2 separate regions of the Homo sapiens genome follow, and region 2 is linked to region 1. The links come from fine-mapping of genetic effects on gene expression. Tissue or cell type: whole blood. Region 1 holds a variant in brackets; the other region holds the start of a gene. All regions are shown on one strand. Distances are between the middles of the regions.

Evidence for each region.
Region 2: it holds the start of MDS2, and the variant in region 1 is fine-mapped to the expression of MDS2 in whole blood (TOPMed, PIP above 0.99).

What each region holds. Positions count from the first base shown.
Region 1 is chr1:23,632,565-23,635,479 of GRCh38, forward strand. The region is part of intron 4 of MDS2 (myelodysplastic syndrome 2 translocation associated); the gene reads left to right. Among named protein-coding and RNA genes, the nearest start is that of MDS2, 6.7 kb to the left of the region's middle. The variant A/G (reference allele first, on the strand shown) is at 1,461.
Region 2 is chr1:23,625,613-23,628,527 of GRCh38, forward strand. It overlaps MDS2 (myelodysplastic syndrome 2 translocation associated), which reads left to right and starts at 1,722. Exons shown (of 6, transcript NR_167910.1): 1 at 1,722-1,925; 2 at 2,169-2,386; 3 at 2,895-2,915. RefSeq lists an enhancer at 176-295.

The DNA.
Region 1 (2,915 bases):
TATCTCTATAAAAAAATACAAAAATTAGCTGGGTGTGGTGGTGTGTGACTGTAGTCCCAGCTACTTGGGAGGCGGAGGTGGGAGGATTGCCTGAGCCCAGGAGGTTGAGGCTGCAGTGAGCCATGATTGCACCACTGCACTCCAGCCTGGGCAACAGAGCAAGACCCTGCCTCAAAATAAAATAAATAAATGTGGCTAGTGAGACTGAAAAATGAAATTTTTATTGTATTTAATTCTAATTAATTTAAACTTAAGTGGCCACATGTGGCTAGTGGTTACTGCATTGGACAGCATAGTTCTCAAATGTTTACGAAGAACACACATATTGGCTTTGCAAAGAGGGAAAAGAGAGCTTTTCTTCCTTTTTTTTCCCTTGTGTGTTTATTTGTTCTGCCCTGGCTTCTTGAAGAGCTCCTCTGAAATCCCAGGGAGAGGCAGTGAATGCAAGGGCTTTGCAAACTGTTAAGTGCTGTACTCAGGAGATGCTGCTGTATGAGACTCTTTTTCCCCTTGCCTGGAACCCTTTTTCTCCTCTCCTCATGGGCTCCCAGCTAAGGTAGAGCCCTGACCAGAGAAAGCATCTTTGGGTGGTCTCTCAAGGGGGAACAGGGTATCCTGGGGTCTGGCCCCTGCAGCTAAGGCCCTCTCCTGAAAAGACTTTCCAGAAGGCATTCATTCACTCATGTATTCATTCAACAACCATTACTAACCATTCTCCTTCTCACCAGTCACTGCACTAGGCCCTGGGTACAGTGGCGTGGCTTAAAATCTAGGCTTTGGGAGGTATGGAGTGGTAACTGACAGGGCTGGGACACAGAAGGCCAGCTCAGCCACCCGTGGGCATGCCCCTTAATTTTCCTAAACCTCTATTTTTCTCTTCTGTAAAAGCAGGAAAATAGTGACACTGTCTTGCCAATCCCCTAGGGTCAATCAGGGCTGAGAAAGTTAATTACAGAGGCCTGCAGAGATATTCGTGATCAAAGAATATGCCTTCCTGGGAGAATAAGCGGGTAGTGACAGCCAGCTCCAATGCCCATGTAGATATTATTATTAATAATATTTTATCAGCCAGGCGCGGTGGCTCACGCCTGTAATCCCAGCACTTTGAGAGGCCGAGGCAGGCAGATTACGAGGTCAGGAGATCGAGACCATCCTGGCTAACAGAGTGAAACCTCATCTCTACTAAAAATACAAAAAATTAGCCAGGCGTGGTGGCAGGCGCCAGTGGTCCCAGCTACTCGAGAGGCTGAGGAAGGAGAATGGCGTGATCCCAGGAGGCGGAGCTTGCAATGAGCCAAAATCGAGCCACTGCACTCCAGCCTGGGCGACAGAGCAAGACTCCGTCTCAAAAAAAAAAAAAAAAAAAAAATTAGCCGGGCGTGGTGGCACACGCCTGTAGTCCCAGCTACTTGAGAGGCTGAGAATTGCTTCAACTTGAGAAGTGGAGGTTGCAGTGAGCC[A/G]AGATTGCACCACTGCACTCCAGCCTGGGTGACAGAGCAAGACTCCGTCTCAAAAATAAATAAATAAAATAATAATAATAATATTTTATCACAACACATCACAGTTTCTTTAAGAGTAGTTAAAATATCAACCTTAAGGAAACCAGGAAAAGGGTGTTATCATTCATCCATACAGCATTTGTTGATTCCCACTGAAGTTCCAGGCCAAGGTGGGGTAGGGGATCAGTCTGGGAATGGGGACCTGACATGCGAGAAAGACACATAAGGAAATATTCCCTTTTTATTCATTCACTCCTCTGGCATATGCCAACCCTCTGGGGACATAATGAAAGACATCCACAGCCTTGCTCTCAGGAAGCTTTTAAAGGAAGTGGGGAGGCAGATATTCCTCAAATAGCCATTCAACTGCATATTATAAACGGTGATAAGGGTTAAGGAGAGGAAGTACAGAGTGCTATGAAGACATCATGGGGGACCTTGATGTACTTGGTGGTGGGAGGGTCAGAGATGGCATCTCTGGGGAGGTCAGCATCTAAAGGAGTTGAATAAGGACTGATAGGGTGGGGAAAGAGGGTCCAGGAGGCAGAAACAGCATGTGCCAAGGCCCTGAGCTGGGAGAGGGCAGGGTGCTTGTGAGGCCAGTGTGGCTGGAACCCAGCTGGCAAAGGAAGGGGTGCGTTATGCAGCTGAGGCTCTAGTGGACCATACTTAGGAGCCAGTGAAGGCTTCAGGGAAGGACAGTGAGGACAGCTGTCCATTCTGGATGGAACACTGGAGGGGCAGAGTGGGCGAGGCATGGGCACAATGGCAGCTGGTGCCAGGGAGGCAGCAATGGGGTGGAGAGAAGGGGAGAGTGGGTGCGTAATGAGCGCGATGGCAGCCTGTGTCAGGGAGACAGCAGGGGGTTGAGAGAAGGGGAGAAATTTGAGGGCTGCTTGGGAGGTAAGTGGGGCAAGACGTGGGGTTGGATTGGCCCTGGGAGAGGTGGCACGAGAGGTCCCAGTGGGTAAGCTCTGTGACCCAGGAAGGGCTGGCTAAATCTGACCTGGGGAAGGCCTCCCAGATGGAGCACATCTCCCCGGTATCGTGAAATAGGTTGCAGCACCCCTAGTGGAGAAAAAGGGGAAAGACAGTCTATCCCTGGCGAGCAGAAATTCAGCTGGGAGTTGTCAGTGAAACGAAACTAACATTGAGTATGGACCGTGTACCAAGCCCTTTCTAAGTGCTTTACCTTCATCACCTCATTTAATCCTCCCAACAACTCTACAAGGTCGATGCTATTATCACTCTCATTTTACAGATGAGGAAGCTGAGGCTCAGAGAGGTGCTGCCACTGGGATGCGGACTCCAGGAAGCCTGACCCCGTCCTGCCTTTTAATCACGGCATCATACTGCTCTTGTGGTTTGGGATGATTAGAACCTGAGAGAGTTGGAGAGGGGAAGGAGCGGGTTGAG
Region 2 (2,915 bases), 7.0 kb before region 1:
CCACTAGTATTTTTAGCCAGTACCCCCTCTGTGTGAAGCAAAACTTCCCTTTACTGGTCTTAAATTTACTTCTTTCGAGTTTCAAGGGGAGCCCCCTTCTGCCTCCTATCTTAGGGTTAGTGGCCCAATGCGAGATCTCTAGTAAAGGTTTTCACAGAGTGGGTGGGAGGAGGGTCTCCCAGTTTATACCTTACCTGCTCTGTGATGTTTCACCACCTGTAAAATGAAAATAATGAGAGTGGCCACCTCAAGAGGCTTTGATGATGAAATGGGACACAGCTTGGCAGCAGGGAGTAATCAATATAGGCTAGCTTCCATGCAGATGACAATTATGGTGATCAGGAGGAGGATGATAATGATAGGGATGATGGTGATGGTGATGATGATGGTGATGATGGGGATGATGGTGATGGTGATGATGGTGATGTTGATGGTGATGGTGATGATGGTGATGGGGATGATGATGATGGTGATGGTGATGGTGATGATGATGGGGATGATGATGATGGTGATGTTGGGGATGATGATGATGGTGGTGATGGTGATGATGATGGGGATGATGATGATGGTGATGATGATGATGGGGATGATGATGGTGGGGATGATGGTGATGGGGATGATGGTGATGGGGATGATGATGATGGGGATGATGGTGATGATGGGGATGATGATGGTGGGGATGATGGTGATGGGGATGATGGTGATGGGGATGATGATGATGGGGATGATGGTGATGGTGATGATGATGATGGGGATGATGATGATGGGGATGATGATGGGGATGATGAGGATTCTGTTGTGTGATATTGGGGGAGTCAGTGAATGACATTTTCCATGTCTGTCAAATAAGGGTGTTGGACCAAATGATCTGTGAAGGTCCATCGAGGTCTGATGTTCTAGAATTTTCTAGTTTAAGTGCTCTCTTCCTCCTTTCAGCCTGGGTTACCCTCTTCCCTGCAATTTTGGTGCTCCCTAGTGATGTGTGATGAGAGATGGAGTATTATAGTAGAGACAAAACTGATGTGGAGTCAGGAGGCCCGAGGTTCCAGCGGCACCATTTATAGTGGAGTCTTCATCATGGTGCATTTAACTTACACACATTTTTTTTTTCTCTTTGAGACAGGGTCTTGCTCTGTCACCCAGGCTGGGGTGCAATGGCGTGATCTCGGCTCACTGCAACCTCCACCTCCTGGGCTCAAGTGATTCTCATGCCTCAGCCTCCCAAGTAGCTGCGGTTATAGATGTGCACCACCACGCCCGGCTAATTTTTGTATTTTTCACAGAGACGGTGTTTCACCAGGTTGCCCAGGCTGGTCTCGAACTCCCGGCCTCAAGTGATCTGCCCACCTTGGCCTCCCAAAGTGCTGGGATTACGGGCGTGAGCCACTGCACCCAGCCTAATTTACACACATTTAAACACGCGTGTAAAGGGAGGGGAGAGAGAGAGAGAGCACGTTGTGCATGAATCACTGCTACAGAGTCACACTCCAATTCCACTTGGTGAGCACTCACCCCTTGAGAGGGAATGTGACCTGCCAGGTTCCCCCCGCCGGTCCAAGTTCCTGCACTTCCAGCCTCATGTGGGCTCTCATCATGCTGAGTGTGATCCTGCTGTTCAAATGGTTTTTATGTGGTGTGGCCCCAGATACAAGCCAACCATTTCACCTGTGGTGAGCGGAAGGCGCAGCTATCTATAACACCTGAGAAAAAAAGAACCTGCTGTACTAGCTGTCAGCTGCTGGAGACCTTGCTTTCTGTTTCACTGGGAAACAGAAGCAATCAGAAGGAAACTTCCTCAGACTCCACCTCTCCCTTCACTCCCGCCTGTATCCGTGCCTGTTACCTGGACGCCTTGTGGAACTTGAATTCTACGCCCTCCACTGGGACACTGCCCTTCATCCTCTCTCACCTCCTCCAGGACAACAGTGAGCAATTCCTTGCGTCTCTCCCACAGCTCCAGGGGTCCCCCTCTTCTGCTGGCTCATTCACATCACCACACAATCGGCTGCAGTTCTTCCAATTGTACACACACACACACACATGCACAAGCCCATGCACACACACCCCCACACCCACACCGTCATATTTCTTTGCTCCCCCTTCCAGGAAAACATCTCAGTGTTTTCTGAATTGACCATCTTCATCCCTCCTTCCTTTTCTCTCTCCAGCTCTCTCTGTGGGGCTTTCACCCCCATCGCTCCACTGAAACTGCTCTTGTCAAGGTCATCGATGACCTCCCGCTGACAAACTCAACTGTCCCATCTCTACACCCCAAACTGACCCATCAGGAATAGCATGAGCTCCACCTTCCAAAGCTTCCGCAATCTCACCGTCTCCACCGTTACTACCTGTGTCCGAGGCACCACTGTTTCTTGCCTGGAGTTGTGTAAGAGCCTCTCAGTGACGTTCCCTGCTTTCTTTCTTTTTTTTTTTTTTTTTTTTTGAGACGGAGTCTTGCTGTCGCCCAGGCTGGAGTGCCGTGGCGCCATCTCCTCTCACTGCAAGCTCCGCCTCCCGGGTTCACGACATTCTCTTGCCTCAGCCTCCCGCGTAGCTGGGAATACAGGCGCCCGCCACCTCGCCCGGCTAATTTTTTGTATTTTTAGTAGAGACGGGGTTTCACCGTGTTAGCCAGGATGGTCTCGATCTCCTGACCTCGTGATCCGCCCACCTCGGCCTCCCAAAGTGCTGGATTACAGGCGTGAGCCACCGCGCCCGGCCAATTTTTTTTTTTTAGACGGAGTCTCGCTCTGTTGCCCAGGCTGGAGGGCAGCTCGCTCCAAGCTCCGCCTCCTGGGTTCACACCATTCTCCTGCCTCAGCCTCCCGAGTAGCTGGGACTACAGGCGCCCACCACCACGCCTGGCTAATTTTTTTTATTTTTATTTTTAACAGAGACGGGATTTCACCGTGTTA